Regions from separate parts of the Homo sapiens genome. Here region 2 is linked to region 1. The links come from fine-mapping of genetic effects on gene expression. Tissue or cell type: whole blood. Region 1 holds a variant in brackets; the other region holds the start of a gene. All regions are shown on one strand. Distances are between the middles of the regions.

Region 1 (8,000 bases):
AGTAATTGTACTTACATTCCCACCAAGAAGTTTCCCTTTTCGCCACAATCTCACCAGCATTTATGATTGACTGTTTTGGGGGTATAAACAATTTTAACTTAGGTGAGATGATTTCTGATTGTAGTTTTGATTTGCATTTTTCTGCCAACTTATGTTGAGCATCTTTTCATCTTCCTGTTTCCCATTTGTATGTCTTCTTTTAAGAAGGGTATATTCAAATCTTTGCCAACTTTTAATCAAATTATTAGATTTTTTCCTGTACAATTGTTGAGCTTGTTATTTATTCTGGTTATTAATCCCTTGACAGTTGGATAGTTTGCAAATATTTTTTGCCATTCTGTGGATTGTCTCTTCACTTTGCTGGTTGTTCTCTTTGCTATGCAGAAGTTTTTAACCTGATGTGATCCCATTTGTCCATTTTTGCTTTGGTTGCCTGTGCTTATGGGGATATTACTCAAGAAATTTTTGCCCAGCCCGTTGTCCTAAAAAGTTTCCTCAATGCACCATGTTGCTGCTGCTAGGGGGTTGGGGAGGAATGGTGTTGATTCAAGACCGTATTTTCTACCCCTTCAGTGCCTCCTTCAGTGATAAGAAGTTAAAACCAGGTACTGTGAGTGCTCATCTGAGTTTTGGTTCATATGAAGTTTGTTTTCTGTGTAGATAGTTATTAGGTTGGTGTCCTTTAGTGAAGGACAGTTGGAAGAGCCTTCTATTACACCGTCTTGATCTGCCTGCTAGAAGCGGTTTTGAAAACCATTAGGGTCAACTAAGATCAAATGAGAGCTAGGAGGACTAATACATTAATAACTAACATTTATTGTATCTCTACTATGCTGCTATATATGTATCTATTTCATATACCTGGCTCGTAATTTGTGTGAGAGTGTGTGTGTGTGTGTGTGTGTGTGTGTGTATAAAACAGTTGTTGAAAAAAGTCAACAAGTTAACATTCCTACTTCTCAGATGAGGACATTTGGGCTCTGAACTTTAACTCATAAAAAGGGTTAAATCTGCAGAGGTATCTCAATTATCAAAACTTTTATATTCAACATATAGTGGCTGTGGCAGAAAAGGGGTAATACAATGTAATTTGTAATATTTTAAATAAAAAATGTTAAAATAATTATACAACTTAAAAACATAAACTTTAATTACCTGATTCATTTCTGTGCTTTGCATTTCCTGATCATTAGAAATTAAATGTGATGATTGTACACATGACAGAAAAATGGTCACATTTTACAACTAATTCTGCCTTAACTAATTGGTAACAGTGAAACAGTAGAAAAACTAACATAACTAACTCCATTTTTTGTTAAAGGGGTCTTTACCTATTCCTGCTCACAGGCTAATTTTAGAGCACTGAGAAAAAATTCAAAGAAAACAGTCATGTAGTTTTCTTAACTAACTCTGTGATTAAAGGAAAAGTATGTAAACAGCTATGTTTTGTTAAAGATTTGCAGAAGCAAACACCGCATGTTCTCACTCACAGGTGGGAATTGAACAATGAGAACACTTGAACACAGGGCTGGGAACATCACACACTGGGGCCTGTCAGGAGGTGGGGGGTTGGGGGAGGGATAGCATTAGGAGAAATACCTAATGTAAATGACAAGTTAATGGGTGCAGCAAACCAACATGACACACGTATACCTATGTAACAAACTTGCACGTTGTGCACATGTACCCTAGAACTTAAAATTTAAAAAAAGAAAAAAAAAAAAAAGAGATTTGCAGAAGCATTGTGACCTGACCATGGACGAAGCAGCTCCAGCTGCCTCAAACTCTGACTAGTATCCAAATTTCTGCGGTTGTGGCGCACATCTTGATCCCAACCCTTTCCTCTTCCTGCTACCCTAAACATAAAAACAGCTTGAAATTTGTACCGACTTAAAATGGTACTTTAGGTCACTAGTTGGCCATCTTCTTGGTTTGCTGGCTTTCCAAAATAAAGTTGCCTTCCTTGTTCCTTGTTCCACCTCCTTAACTTACTGGCTGTTGTGAGGCAAGCAAAATGAGTTTGGGGTTGGTTACAAGTTCATTTGAGTAAGGAAGAATATGTAAGTCTTCATGCAAATTTTGTTAAGATGGTGAAAGTTTTAATCTTCTTCCTAAAGTGATTATTAAAACTTTAAAAAGATGCAAATATCTGCATGCTACAACCTGTTCAAATACATTTAATGCATTTACAAAATTGCTTTTGCATTATATTTTTGAATTAAAAATTATGCAATTCAGCAGCTAATATAGTTACGTTCATAAGTCATATTTTTGCTTCAATTATTTTTGTTTGATTTTGAGTTCTCAGTGACACTTTGATGAATCATCAGGTAATGATTTCTTTAGAAATCAAATATTTAAAAACCATGTCTAATAATTAATTTTAGGGCTACAGAAATAAAATTGAGAGTGCCTTTGAGCACTTTGAGTGCTTTGCTTTTTTGTTTTTTTCTTTCTTTTTTTTTTTTTTTCCTGTGACTAAGCCTTCATTATGCAAGCCTGAGTCCCAACCTCAGGTCTGCACTGGTTGTGGAGGAATTCTCCTCCTTAGAGGTGGAAATAAGCCACCTCTGACCCTACCACCTCCTATTCCCAGCCACACCCAAAGTCTCAACACAGGTTCTGGGCTGGGGGAGGGGAGAACCAAGTGGCCTAGCCAGAGGCAGGGGCCAAGGTTGGATTTCAGAAAGTCCTCTTGATGGAAGTGGGCTCCTGTCCCTGCAGGTAGTGAATGGGGTGGCAGGACTTGCTGGCCCAGTTTGGGCACAGGGATACTACTTGGTTAAATGAATGGTGAGAGATTGAAGGGTGGCCCTGGTCCTGCAGCTCAGGTGGGCTGCTCTGGCTGTGGGTGTACTCTGAGGTGGAGGGTCCCACAGGAATATGTGCAACCTGGTTCCCTGTGGGGAGGGACAGGTCAGGATAGGAGCTCTGGTGACCCCAGACCCTGATTTGCTATCCCTGGAGTTCTGCAGGCTGAAGTCCATGGACCCAGGTAGATGCAGTCACAGGGCATGGGCCCAGGCCTTTCACAGGCTCCCCACCTCTTGGGTCACTGCCTCTGCACAGAAGGAAAGAGAGAAGCCACCATAAAGGAGAGAAAAGACATTGGGGAAGGCAGAGATAAGAGAATAGAAAGGGTGGAGATGATGAGAAAGGAGACAAGGGGAGGACAAGAAGCAGGTAAAGGGAGATGAGGAGTCCAAGAACAGACAATAGAAGTGGGAGGTGGCTGTGAGAAGGCAGTGAGCTGGAGAGGGAGAAGGCAGAGGTCCTCTGGGAGAAGGAAGGGAGGGAGAGAAGGGCCAGGCAAGAGAGCCTTCAGAGTTGAGGTCCCCAGACTTGGGCTAGGCCTAGCGAGACGTGAGCTCCAATGACTTCTTCAGCCTCTTCTTCAGTTCCAGTGGGAAGTTCTTACACACGGGCTTCATGTCAAACTCCACAAACTTGATCTTCAGAGTGAGCCTGCTCTTGCAGGTGGAGCGGGAGAAGCAGTTCACACACATCAGGCCTTGTTGAGGGCCAACACCATGTCACCCTTGACCTCATGGCTGCAGCTACAGCAGATGTCCCAAAGAGCTGGCTGTAGTGGATCTCAAAGTAGGCCAGGCCCTTCTTCTCATAGTGCCAGGGCCCCAGGAATGGCTTCTCACACTCAGGGAAAAGAGCTCTGCATGCCACCACTCTTTGCCCAGTGTATTCACTATGTGGCCTTTGATGGGCTGGCTGCAGTCCCTAGAAATGGGGACAGCATCTTGTCAATGCAGGGCAGGCAGTAGAGTTCACCCTTCAGCTCATGGGCCTCACCAGTCAGCTCCTTCCTACAGTGGATGCAGCTGAAGTGGCCTGGGTGACAGGCACTGTTCCTGAACATGAGGGACTGCTCATGAATGACCAAGTGGCACTGCTGAGGTGCCAGACACTTGTGCCAGTCCCTTGGCCTTCTCATGGTGTGGCAAGGCTGGCAGAGATGCCTATAAACCAGGGGTGGTACTATGCATCTTGTAGGGATGTGGCTGGTCAGCAGCTTCTCGTCAATACAGGCCACAGAGCCTGTAATTGTGCCTGGTTCTCAGCAAGTGGGTCTTTAAATAAATAAAGCTACTTACAGTGACCTGTTTGGAAAAACAATACAGCCAGTTTGAAGTATATATTAAATTCAAATTTTTTTAAAAAGAAAAGAAAGCTAATCTATTTGATCTATTTCACAATAACAACCTTCAACTTCTGAAAATAATAAAGTCACATTCAAGTAGACTTGTAAAACAATTTTAATGTTTACTCAAAATAAATGAGATGTCATCATTAGCCCTTATCTCTCACACTTGAAAAATGGAGACAGTTGTTCAGAATAGAAAGGGAAACAGCTATTAGAGTTTAAGCTCAAGTTTCAAGAAGAATTCAGATAAGGCAGGTAAAAACTCTAGATACTTTTCCACTGTCCAACATCACCAAATATTAATTTCCACATACCTCTTTATTTCATAAAAATATAAATATTTATTAGAAATAGTATGTTTAAGATTAGTTTTTCTTTCTAAATAACATGATTTCTTGCTTTAAAGGAAGATTCCCTAATAGTGCCACCTATTTCATAAACTGTCCTGCAGTTTTGTGCTTTTTAAAAATTCTAATTTACTTTGATTTAAAGAATAAATATCTCATACCCATGGTGAACTATTTTATCACCCCAAAATACAAATGATCCGTATTTTACAATGAAGAAATTCATAGCATCTACCACCACATCACTGTACTATGATTGGACTGACTGAAGTATGGGCCTGTGAATATAGATTGAAAAATAAAAAAGAAATGCTAAAAAAAAAAAACTTAGCTACATAATGTTTAATATCAAAACTCACCAGACAATCCAATTTTAAAGAAACTGATGGAAAAATGCTTCCCCTAAC[A/G]TGAACTATGGTTAGATAGCATTGTCTGTCAGGAAATTCACCAATTCAGTAGCTGATCTTTATGTGGAAACAAAAATAGGGCTTTGTCCTTATTCATAAGTACAGGGAAGAGACCACACCTTTACTTAAAAAAAGAAAAAAAAACCTAGATTAAATGTGACCAGGTAGCCCCCAAATGTATAGTAAACCACCAACTAGCCCCTGGCTCCATAATGGCCATATATTGTATTCTTCCAGTTATTTCTGACAACTCGGAGAAAAACATTACAACCTTAATAATAATTTAAAAAAATCTAAAAATCAAACAAAACAACAGGACCCTGTGGTGATGAATTTTGTTCGTACCAAAAGTATAGTCAGAAATTCTGAAAAAAGACAAAATGCTTGCATACAATGACAGTGCAATCAGCATCCAGGCCAGGTCCTGTGTACACAACCTCTCCAATGCAGTGTAAGTTTCCTCTTAGCAGCCACCAACAATGAGCTCAAACGTAGTGAATCTGTAATGTGGCTGGTTTTCTAACACTATAAATATTAATAAGAGTGGCTAGTGCTATTATTTACATCTGTTGGCCGAATATTACTCTTGAGAAATAAACACTGGACTTTTTCTTAACAAGTGGTTTCTCATTGACAAGTTCTGGTCATTAGTGAACTAGAATGAATCTTAGCTCACTTCCTTGTTTTGCAGGACATTTAACTCCTTGCTTCTTTTAAAAACTCCAGTGGTTTTTAGGCAGCCACTACAATAAATTCTCCCCCCTTTTTCAATTTACTTCCCTTTCTTTTCCCTAAGGTAGAACTTCTGTAAACCTAAAAACATATGGTAATTTAATATACAAGGTTTCTCAAAGTGCAAAATATGTTACAGATAGTTTCTTAGGCTTCATTTAAACACAGCATTTTATACAATACAGTACAGTTTGAGATTTCTGCTCATAAATTATACCACTTAACAGACAACTACTTTAAAAGGACTGACCACCTAAGTAACCCAATGTCTTCTTACACACGTTAATACAATGGAACTTTACAAGGTTTGTTCAGACCAAAATAAAGTTAATCTTACATTCAGTCACATATATACATATTTTTAAATGCTCCTTAAATGCCTAAGCATAGACAAATTTGCCTATCAATAGGCAAATTCTTATGAATTATCTTATAGTTCAGTTTTGGAGTTACACATAAAGATTGCATACAATATTAAAAAAATAATCTGGGGAGCAATTCATTTTATTTCCTACTTCAAAATCTGCTCATCCTGTAATTCTTTTGGAAGGGTTCTTGACCGTTGTAGAACCACATTAAGTTCTTCAATTACCCTTGATGGTAACTTATGATCAGAGTCCAAAGTAGCTTTGCTATTCCTGTCCTCAGTCTTCCTCAATGTCTTTAGGCCTTTATGGCCTTTTGGTTGCCCAAGTGGGGCTTCAGGCTCTGTGTCCTCCAGGCAGTTGAAACTCCGATGTTTTCGGGGTCGATTTCGAAGTTTATCGTCCTTGTGCTCCAGGCAGTGGGCCACCATGGAAGCTCTCTCCTTTAAGCTAGAGTCCACGGACTCTTTATCACACTTTTCACTGAGCCGCAGCCTTTCAAGTTCTGCTCTTGCACTCTAAAAATAAAATTAAATGTCTCACAGGGAAGCAAGATTTGGCACAATTTAGGTTTAGAAAGTGCAATCCACATAAAAGTTGATGCTTCCTATAAAAGATCTCATTTCTATGACTTAGGTCCTAACTTTACTTCGATACAAGTGGCATGTCTGAATTTATATACTAATCTTAGAGCTACAAAATCAACTACAGACAGTCCCTGGCTTACAATGCCTCAATACGATTTTTTGACTTTACAGTGGTGAAAAACAAATATGCATGAAGTAGAAAGCATACTTCAAATTCTGAATTTCGATCTTTTCCCCGGTTAGTGATGCGCGGTAGGACACTCTCTCGTGATGATGGGCAGTGGCAATGAGCTGCAGCTTCCAGTCAGCCATGCACTCATGAGGGTGAAAAACTGATATGGCGTGCTGTGTTGCCAGATGATTCTGCCCCGCTGTAGGCTAATATAAATGTTCTGAGCACGTTTAAGCTAGGCTAGGCTAAGCTACAACATTCCATAGGTTAGGTGTATTTAACGCCTTTTTTATTTTATGTATGTTCACCTTATGGTGAGTTTATTGGTATGTAACCCCATCATAAGTTGAGGAACATCTGTAAAATGCAATCCATGGAAATTCATTTTAACATGCATTCAACATACCACTTCGAAGGTGTCTTTTGGGTTAGTTATTCAAATTGAATCTCACTTCATACTTGCCTCTTCTAACTCACTCCTGCTTAGATATGTCTAGCAAGGTTTCTATTTTTTTTTTCCTTTTGTTTAATTAGTTCACTGAAGTGTGAGCCTTGTACACACATAGGAAATGATCAATAAATATTTTTGAATGAGTAAATGAAGAAAAGTTTAAACAGTTTCCAGTATACAACACTGTTCTATTTTTCTTAATCTCAGTAGATCCAAACATAAATTTATAACAGAAAATTCAAGTGGAATAAAAATATTTTCATGAATATAATGTACAAATAATTTTGAAATTTGGAATTTTCTGGTAAGATTCTGATTATACATCTTAAGCTATATACATTTTTCCTACTCTGAAATTTATAGGAAGAAATGTTTAATATCTAGCTTAATTCCAAAGTTTCATTAGAATATGTTAAAATACTAAGAAAAATAGTGATGGTTGAACAATGTAAATACAACCAATGCCACTGAATTGTATGTATTTTTAAATAAAGTAGAAAATTCCATGATATATGTATTTTATCGCAAATGAAGTAAAAAAAAAACAAGACAGGGTTTATAAACAAACTTTAATCTTGTTAAAAAGTTTCACTCGGCATCTATTACTTGGGAAAAATTAAGGATAAATATAGAGAGGTTTTATATATCAGAGTGACAGTTCTCATCGTCTTTCAACCATCAGCATAAAAACTTTGGGACTCTCTTAGACACAGAATTTAAGGGCCAAGTAATAACATACATAATGCTGAAATTTCAAGTACACTACTGATATGGTTTGCA
Region 2 (9,905 bases), 180 kb after region 1:
ATGTAAAAGAGGAAGTGTTTTAGAGAAAATATGCTTATGATTATATTCTTCCATCCCACAGTATAGAGCAGACTGCAAAAGGATGAAGGTCAGGCCTGCTAACTTATTTTTCTAGTCTGAGTGCTTAGCCCCCAGAAAAAGTATAAAACTGGTTGTTTGGCATCTCTCTCCTCCGCCATCCATTCACTTACCTTAGTGTGTGGCAACATCCGCCCCATTAAACCCCTTACAGGAAGCCCAGTTCCCTCAATGTGGTCATCTCTTTAAATTGTGGTCACTCACAGGCTCTGACCTCCTCTGTACCCTGTTCTCTACCTCAACCACTACTTCTTTCCCACCCACCAAAACACATCCATCTTCTTTCATTCTCCCTCAGAATGACATTGATAATAATAATAACCAGTAGTTGTGGATGTTTGCAAACCATTTTTGTAGGACCTCATTTACTCCTCACAGCTGCAGAGGAGGAAAATCCGACGCTGAATGTCACGCAATAGATAAACAGTGGAAACACTAACTTAAGTGTTTCTAAGAGTCAGACTCCACAACCTGTGCTATAAACTGTAAAGCCTCATAGTAGATATAAAATTGATTTAATAGTAAAGAGGTAGCAAAGACTTAATAGTCTCCCTCTCCTTTGTCTAGCTGTTCATAAGGGCTTATATTCACACTAGGGAAATGCTGTTTAAATATACCATATCTTGCAAATTCAAGTTTTATACACCATTTAAGTTTGATATGTGTCCATGTACGTGGCTAAACCTGGAAGCCTACATTCATTTACATTTAATTGCCTGAGAGTTGAGAGCCAATGACAAATTAAGGGAGAACATCTTTGTAATTGCTATATAAAGCAATGGTAATGTAGAATTTAGTCTATTAAAATTTATTTTGCATCTATCACTGCAGAAAGACAGCTAACACAGGACTATAGTACAATTGATATAATGCAACAATATGAAGCCAAAATCAAATAATCAAATATGACCAAAATAAGTATTCACTGCCCACATGAAGTCAATGGTTATGGTAAAAAACAAAAACAAAAACAAAAACAAATGTGCTTGACGAGAAAATAAAGTGTTAAGGCCAGGCATGGTGGCTCACGCCTGTAATCCCCATACACTTTGGGAGGCCAAGGTGGGTGGATCACCTGAGGTCAGGAGTTTGAGACCAGCCTGGCCAACATGGTGAAATCCCGTCTCTACTAAAAACACAAAAATTAGCAGGGCATGGTGGCACACACCTGTAATCCCAGCTACTTAGGAGGTTGAGACATGAGAATCGCTTGAACCCAGTGGGCGGAGGTTGCAGTGAGCCAATATCACGCCACTACAGGGACAGAGAAAGATGCTGTCTCAAAAAAAAAAAGAAGAGAAAGTATTAACACAAAAAAGATACCTGACTATGATCTTAAAGGTTTAACTTCAAATGTGGTGCAAAAGTAGATAAGGAGTGGAAGCAACCCAGATATCTATGAATGGATGAATGGATGAATGGATAAATAAAGTGTGGTATATACACAAAATGAAATACTAAGCAGCCTTAAAAAGGAATAAATACTGTCACATGCTACAATACAGATGAACCTTGAAGGTCATTATGCTAAGTGAAAAAACAGTCATAAAACAGACAAATACATGATTCCACTTACATAAGGTATCTACCGTAGTCAAATTCATAGAAAGTAGAACCATGATTACCAGAGAGGAGAAGAGAGGTAAGGAGTTGTTTAACAAGCATAGAGTTTCAGTTCTACCAACTGGAAATGGTCTGGAGATCTGTTTCACAGCATTGTAAATATACTTAGCGTTACTGAACTATACACTTTAAAATGATAAGACGGTAAATTTTATAGTATGTGTTATTTTTACCCAGTAAAAAAGGAGATCAGAAAACAGACTAGAAGATTTGGGCCAGTCTCTCAGCTCTTATTCAAATGGAACTCCCTGTACATACCTGGACTTTTTTTCTCTCCTTTGGGAGCCAATTCAAGTCTTACAAGTATGGTAACACCACATTCGTGAGGCTTCCCTGCCTATCCCATCCCTCCTCAATCCCTTATTAGTTCCACCCAGGCAGTAGTATAGATAGCACAATGCCCGAATTCCAGTCCAGGCTTCCCCACTTTTTAACTATGTAACTTAAGTTATTTAACTTCCCTGAAGCTTGTTTTTCTCATTTATAAAATGAGGGTAATATACCCTATATCGTATAGTATTTCTATTAGAATTAAACAAGTAAAAATTTAAGATATATAAGAATACCTGACATGAGTTACAACTGCACCATAAACGTTGGCTAATATTAATTCACCCATTGTATACAATATTGCCTTTAATCATATTCATACCACTATATTGCACTTGGTTTGAATGGAATTCTTCGGTCTGCATAGTAGTATTACATTCCTTTAAATTATCACTGTAAATCATTCTTCTAATAAACCCACAATGCACCTAACACAGCAGTTAACATAGTTTTATTAATGTAGTAACGTATACATGTAGTTAGAGTTGTAAGAATGATGATAATTTCACCTGAAGACTTAACACCTGGGACACAAAGCACAGTGATTTACCAGGGATTCCAGCTCTGCCATGTGCTACCTGTGTGGCCTTGGGAGAATTCCTCTCTTTTCCTGAGCCTCACTGTTGTCATTTGTAAGCAGGGAAAATAATAGTGCCTACCTCACGGGGATATTTTGAGGATGAAATGAGCGCATATGCATTAAAATCTTAGAACAGTGCCTGGTAAGCAACAAGCATTTAATTAGTGTCTTCTGGATGGAGAATAATGGAAATTTTAGCTGAAAATAGGTAGGCTCTGGGCAAAATCATTTCATAGCTTTGATCAAGGAGTAAGGATTGTCTAAGCTATGTTTTGATTATTTTACTTATAGCACAATCTGAAAAACACAATAAAAAAACCTAAAACTTAAAAACAATTTCCATCCAGTGAAGGCCACAAGTACAAATTCCTTTACTTAGTATAAGAACATATTAGTAGCATAGGAGGTACCTAGGTTTAGGTGTTCTGGATAATATCGCAATAGTTAAATGCTTGATAATCTCCTTAGCTTCTGTAAGTCTTTTCCTTTCAAGCTGTCCATCCAGATTTTAAGTTAATTCACTAAGATTTGAGAATTTTTAAAAATTCTAATGTAGAGAGATCCCTAAGGTAAAGCCATAATTCTTGGGATATCAGAGAATAATTTATTCTTCTAGAGTTTCTACAAAAGCAGAATTTTAAAACTTTTGTATAAGTGTATATACTCCACCATTTCTCTGAATGTAAGTCATATTTTTAGACAAACAACCAGATGTTTCAGAATAGCCTACTGTGTTTCCTCTCTTTGCATTTATAAATAGTACTCTGACCTCTTTTCCAACTGAGTTTGAGGGTTTATTCCTATTGGTTTAGCAATTGTCAAAGTTTCTTTTTCTTATAAAAAGAGGGCATTTCAGAAAACGTCTCCTACCTTACTGGACCATTTTTTAACATGTATTCATTCAATATATATTAAGCAACACTACTCGCTCCAAGATAAGAGAGGGAGATATTTGGTGTTCAAGATAACAGCCTCTACTGTCTCATTTGACAACAGTGCTAAGGGCTACAAAGAAAGTGAAGATACAGTCTTCCCTCCAAGAGTTTACAATCTAAAAGGGTAGATGAGACATGACTATAAGAAAAGGTAAATGGCACGTATATGAACAATCAGTTCATTATTACTCAGTAAGTGCCAATAAACAATACCAAAGACACCACAAAAAAACAACTTTTTGCAAAGAATTTGATATATTCCAAAAAAAACACTTAAATTGTAATGGTGAGAAAAATCCAATTTTATGACCCTAATTTCCACATGGTTTTATATTTTAGTATTGTTTTAAATACATGGAGAAGTGGCCCCATCATCCTTCATGAGTTCTCAGGAACTCTAAAAAATCTCAAATCTGCCACCTAAACCACTGCTTCAACCCAAATCAGGCCTCCTTTGTTTTCTCTGCAGCATGGGTAAATAAGTAAGCTTGTGCTGAACAGAAACTGAAACAAAATTTCACAGGACAACTTTCTAACTAGAAAAGATCACGTGAGGAGAATACCATTAAGTACTGCTTCATTTAAAGAAGAAACAAGTGAGCAAAATGGTTTAACTACCATTATATATTTAATCTGGCCAATACTTACAAGTAATAACTAAAATGATAAATTACAAGGTCCAGAACTTTGCAGAAAAGATTAAGACAGCGTCTCATAGCCTCTAATCTCACATCCACCATATGTGGTCAAAGCTAAGACATATTTCCCAGATTATTAAGAAGTTCTCTACCTAATTAATATTTCACCAAGAATTCCCAAAACTCTTACAATGTAGCATGTGCAAAGATTGTATCCAAGAAATGTATCAATAAATAAATGAGGACAGGTGGAAATGTATGCTAAAAGAAAACTATTAAAGCAATGACTATTATTTATACTTAGCATTTTTATAGTCACTTTCACCAAACTTTCTCACAGTTGCAGGGAGGTGGGTTAGAAAGTAACAAAACGAAACAACAACAACAACAAAAAACTTCTCATATATCATGAAGTCTATAACCCAGAATTCTACGTAGACTTTAAAACTTCATAGTTTCAATGCGTTAAAGTTCTTAAGAAAACTGTAATTCATTATAATCTGAGTTCTATACTTCTCCACAGTATCCAAGAATAGTTGGATCTGATATTATTGCATATCCATGAGCCTTACACTGCAAGGAGCTTGCAGTGATATTAGAAAAACAAGAATTTGTTTTTAAACGTACCATCAGCTTCTCCTTTTACAGACAAGCCACATAAAATCTGACAGGTTTACAGACGAAGGAAAAAATACAAACACAAGCACACACCCATATAAATACGTTTTAACAAGCTCTCTCACTTACCCTCTAGGTACATTTTAATTCAAATAAATCTTTGAGTACTGACAAATCTATATAAAACCCTCTTCGTGTTAGGAACCACCTTAAATGTGTATGTGTTAAATATGTTTAGAAAGAAGCCAGGAAGATATTTGCACTTAACCCTAGCCTAGTTCCATGACCCACTTTTTTTTCTTCTTTAAACGTTGTTGGACAAAAAATGTCATGAGTATTTTCTCTCAATATTTCTCCTGTAAGTGTATGGAAGTCATAAATAAGAGTTAAAAAAAAAAGAGTTTAAAGGTATTTCTCTTTTTTTCCTTAAAAAAAGTTAGCTTGCTTTTTATCTTCCAATTACTTACGGGCAAAGTTCCATGGGCCTGTGGGGGTGTAGAGTGCTTAAGTGCAGATAAATCAATACTGAGCTTGTAAGTACAATACTATTATGAGTAATAACAATGACATCCTATTAAATGTACTTTTAAAAATAGCTTATTTTCAATACACTTCTTGATTTTTTTTAAACCGAAGGCTGTATTCTACTGAACAGCCTACTTCAAGGACAAGCTTGCAAAAAAAAAAAAAAAAAAAAAAAGAATTTGCTATCAGGATACCTACTTACAACACCCTAAGATGTCATTATTCCACACAAATTAGCTTATTTTCTTGTGTTTTCCTCTAATTATCAAAGGCTATATAATCCACGAACCCTTTCCCCAAATCAAAATAACTCCAGATCACCTCAAGGTAGGAGGTGTTTAAGAAAACAAGCCAGAATTAGATAAAGTAAAACTTACTTTATTAAATAGGATGGACACCACTTCTCCCAAGAGAACTGTCTCCAAAAGTAAACAAGAAAGATCAATCTGGTAAACTCACATCATACAGGTTCCCGTGTAAGGTATCGGGTTCAGGCAGGTGGAAGCCAAATGATCGTAATTAAAGTTAATTAACAGGCCAGTCGTCTTAACGTGGTTAACAAGCAGGGTGCGGGGCAGCACAGACACCCGGGCAAATTCATGATCTCTACCGAGTAAATAACTTGGTGCCTGAAACTCACTACAGCTTCTTCTTATTTAAAGGTAGGGGAGAGGAATGGAGGGAGTGTCCAGCTGTCTATCCGGATCCTCACCCTCCCGGGTCAAATCCCAGAAGTGGAGTTCTTGGATCACTTACCGGCTTCTGGTTTCCTTTCAGACGCCCACACGCGGGAGCGAAATCCAAGGGGCGGACACCAGAGCCGAGCACTTTGCGCTGAGGAAATTTACCCGGTGAAGTGTCGAAAAGCCCCAGCCCCTCCAGACAGGGTCCTCCCACCCCCGCGTGGGCCATCCCGGCCCAGCCTTCCCGAGGCCCCGGGTACTCGCCTTGCGCTCGGGTCGCGGAGTTCGAAAAGCGAGGTGAGGCGGCGCTGGGAAGCTCAGCGCCGGCGTCTCTCCCAGCCTTGGGCGCTCGGTCCTCGCCCCTCTGCCGGAGGCGCCAGGCCTCCTCTTTCCCGGTCCCCGCCGGCTGTCCGCAGTCGCCTCTGCTGCCTGGCGGCGGCCGCGCGGGCGGCGCTGTTAGTGGGGCCGGCGTGTCGCGGCCGCCGCACCTGGAGGCGGGGAGCGCGGGCCGCGGACCCGCGCTCAGCTCCGGAAACGCCGAGCCCGGCGCCCGCGCCTTGCTCAGGTGCTCCCGCGCCTCGCCTCGGCCGCCGCTTCCTCTCCGCCCGCGGGGGCGGGGAGCAGGCGCCCCGCGCGGGGGAAGCCGGAGCTCAACGGCGGGGGCGGCCCAGCCGGCCTCCCTGGTTCCGCAGCATAGTTGGGTGACTGACTCAGACCGCCGCGACTTGGCCGCGCCTGGCACCCTCGCCACCTGGCGCACCTCGGCCCGGAGGCGTCAGACCCCGCTGGGGAAGCTGCGGGGGCGCGCCCTGGAGCCCAGAGCGACAGGGGCATTACCCACCTTCCCGGGACGGAGATGCCCAGGACCTTGTGTTGGCTCCTCCTGGCCAGTGGGTTTGTCTGTGCGCACTCATGGGGGGTTGAATGTCAAATGGGCGGAACCTCGCCACGACTGATTATTAGTATTACTCTTCCAAGTACTTAAAGTGTTAGCTCAGCGTTTCCCAAACTGAAGACTCATCTAGGGCACTATTTTCCCCAGGCTGCTTCTATGTAAATTTGCTCCTTCTTGCACCTGTGGCGGTTAGATCCCAGAGGGGCATTTCCCCTTTGAGTTGGACTCTGACAAAGGAGGCAGCGAAGGAAAATAGGGGATCCCAAAGAACCCTTGTGGACCTCCAAATATCTAAGCGTCCGTAAAATCCAGTTATTTGCAAGTGAGTTCACAGACCAACTACTTTTTTTTTTTTTTTTTAGACAGGGTCTCACTTTGTCACCCAGGCTGGAGTGTAGTGAGGCAATCTCAGCTCATTGCGCCTCCGCCTCTGGGTCCAAGCTATCCTCCCACGTCAGCCTCCCAGGTAGCTGGGATTACAGGCGCGCACCATCAGCCAAGGTAATTTTTTTTGTATTTTTGGTATAGACGGAGTTTCGCCTTGTTGCCCAGGCTGGTCTCAAACTCCTGACCTCAAGTGATCCACCTGCCTCGGCCTCCCAAAGTGCTGGGATTACAGGCGTGAGACACTGCCCCCTACCAGCTTTTTTTTTTTTTTTTATAAACATCTCCCACAGACTACCTGAAATTCTCTTCATTAAAAGGTGAAATGTATTTATCTTTCCCCTGTTCCTGTTGATGGAAGTGAAGCAATTAAGGAAAGCGCAGACCTTATGAAAATGAGATAATTGGTGAAGTGCGGAAAGAGAGAGGCTTCCCACAAGCCTGGGCCCTTAGGATTCTTCAGTCATCACCTTCACCCACACTAACTACCTGCCCAAAGCACCGTCTTTCCCTGGGGAGACTCTGAAGCAGCTCTGTCTTACTAGAGACACCAAATATCCAGTTCCTTTTGAACTTAATACCTCATAGCCGACCTCATTTCCACCAGGAAAGTTTTATTGACATTTTCCAAACCACGGGAACTTTTTCTCTGGATTCCTATAGCATTTATAGGAGGAATTTTATTTATGTGGCTCTTTTCTGGCTTCATTCTCTGTGTGTGTGTGTTTCTTTTGTTCTTTTTCCCTTTTCCCTCTCCAAATTCTCACATACTTCTCTCTTTTTTTTTATCTCTCTCTTTTTTGTTTTTGTTTTTGTTTTCGACTGAGCCCCGCTGTATCGCCCAGGCTGGAGCGTGGAGAGCAGTGGCGCGATCTCAGCTCACTGCAGCCTCCGCCTCCTGGGTTCAAGCCATTCTCCCGCCTCAGCCTCCTGAGTAGCTGGGATTACAGGCATGCACCACCACGCCTAGCTAATTTTCGTGTTTTTAGTAGAGGCAGGGTTTCACCATGTTGGCCAGGGTGGTCTGAAACTCATGGCCTCAAGTGATTCGCCTGCGTTGGCCTCCAGAAGTGCTGAGATTACAGGCGTGAGCCACCATGCCTGGCTCTATTTTTATCATTGTAAGCCATCTTCGGTCCTTCTCTAAACAAGGTGGGTTATAAATAAAAATTATTAGATCAGTTATCTTATGTGTGGGAGGTTCAATCATTGCTTTGTCCTCAAGTTACTTCGCTTGGTAGATTTTATAAACTAATTGAGAAATTGTCTCTCTCCCTCTTCGCAAAAATATCTTAGTTCTTTGATTATTATTCAGTCATTTATTCTTTAAAAATTATTAATCACTGTTTGGCATTTTGAAAATACAGTGTTTAGCAAATACAATGCAATCTCTGGATTTATGTTTTCTGAGGGGAAATAAAGGTAAATGCTACAAGGTACAACAATGACTTCATAATAGCCCTGGGAAATAAAGAAGAACAATGCTCACTTATTGAATGTATACATTAGTTATAAGATGTATTCTGGTTTAATGAATCTTAATATATGGAGGAAAATAAAAATGTCTGAGGAAATACGGCAAAAGCTATCTTTTATTAATTGATCGATAGTCACCAGACTCTAGTCAAATACCTAACATATATGCTGTGTATACACAACGTGTGTGAGTTAAAATTCTTTTTTCAATTTTATAAATATAGGTTTAATTGAAACTTAAAGAGGTTAAGTAGTAAATAGTGAATACATTGAATACATTTAGGCTATATTCTTAGGGTATAAATTTTTTATTTTGCAACCTTCACAGTGAGGTATTCAGAGAGCAAAGTACACAGGGAAATTGGCTTTACAAGGATTAAGGTATGGGCCAGGCACAGTGGCTCAGGCCTGTAATCTCAGCACTTTGGGAGGCAGAGGCGGGCAGATAACCTGAGGTCTGGAGTTCGAGACCAGCCTGGCCAACATGGCGAAACCCCATCTCTACTAAAAATACAAAAAAATTAGCTGGACATGGTGGTGCATGCCTGTAATCCCAGCTACTCAGGAGGCTGAGGCAGGAGAATCGCTTGAACCTGGGAGGTGGAGGTTGCAGTGAGCCGAGATTGCACCATTGCACTCCAGACTCCAGCCTGGACAATGAGACTGAAACTCCATCCCCTCCCCTCCAAAAAAAAAAAAAAAAAAGGTAAGAAAATATGTTTAATCTCAAGACCATTGGAACATATATTCCCAGTAATTTTCATCTAGGCTGAAATGATTCCACAATGACGAGCTCCTGCACATTTTTCCCAGATTTTTAGTAAAAAAGCAGGTAAAGATGTGTCTGTGCCTATCTATGTATTTACTATTGTGATCTCTTGTTGCTTTACTTGTCGAGGAGACAATTTGAGAGAGTGAAAATCTTCCTCCTCTCCTCCTCCTCCTCACTCTCTCCTCTCTCCCTCCTTTTCCTCCTTCTACTTTTTCTTACAACATGATGGCTAATACCCATTGAGCACTGTGTGCCAATTGCTGTTCCAGGCATTTTAATTACAAGAGCTCATTTAAGTATCTCAGCAGTTCCTTGGAGAGATGTTATCTCCTTTATAAGAAAACTTAAGAGACAGAAAAATTGAATGC

The links. PIP is the estimated chance that this variant, and not a neighbour inherited with it, causes the effect.
Region 2: ARAP2 starts here. The variant in region 1 is fine-mapped to the expression of ARAP2 in whole blood (TOPMed, PIP 0.95).

The regions. Positions count from the first base shown.
Region 1 is chr4:36,061,751-36,069,750 of GRCh38, forward strand. ARAP2 (ArfGAP with RhoGAP domain, ankyrin repeat and PH domain 2) reads right to left here. Exons shown (of 33, transcript NM_015230.4): 33 at 4,254-6,528. The coding sequence ends at 6,157. It also overlaps the pseudogene LOC651644. Among named protein-coding and RNA genes, the nearest start is that of ARAP2, 180 kb to the right of the region's middle. The variant A/G (reference allele first, on the strand shown) is at 4,914.
Region 2 is chr4:36,237,905-36,247,809 of GRCh38, forward strand. ARAP2 (ArfGAP with RhoGAP domain, ankyrin repeat and PH domain 2) reads right to left here and starts at 6,610. Exons shown (of 33, transcript NM_015230.4): 1 at 6,275-6,610. It overlaps LOC439933 (a long non-coding RNA gene), which reads left to right and starts at 6,212. Exons shown (of 5, transcript NR_122079.1): 1 at 6,212-6,307; 2 at 7,268-7,406. RefSeq lists a silencer at 6,406-6,985.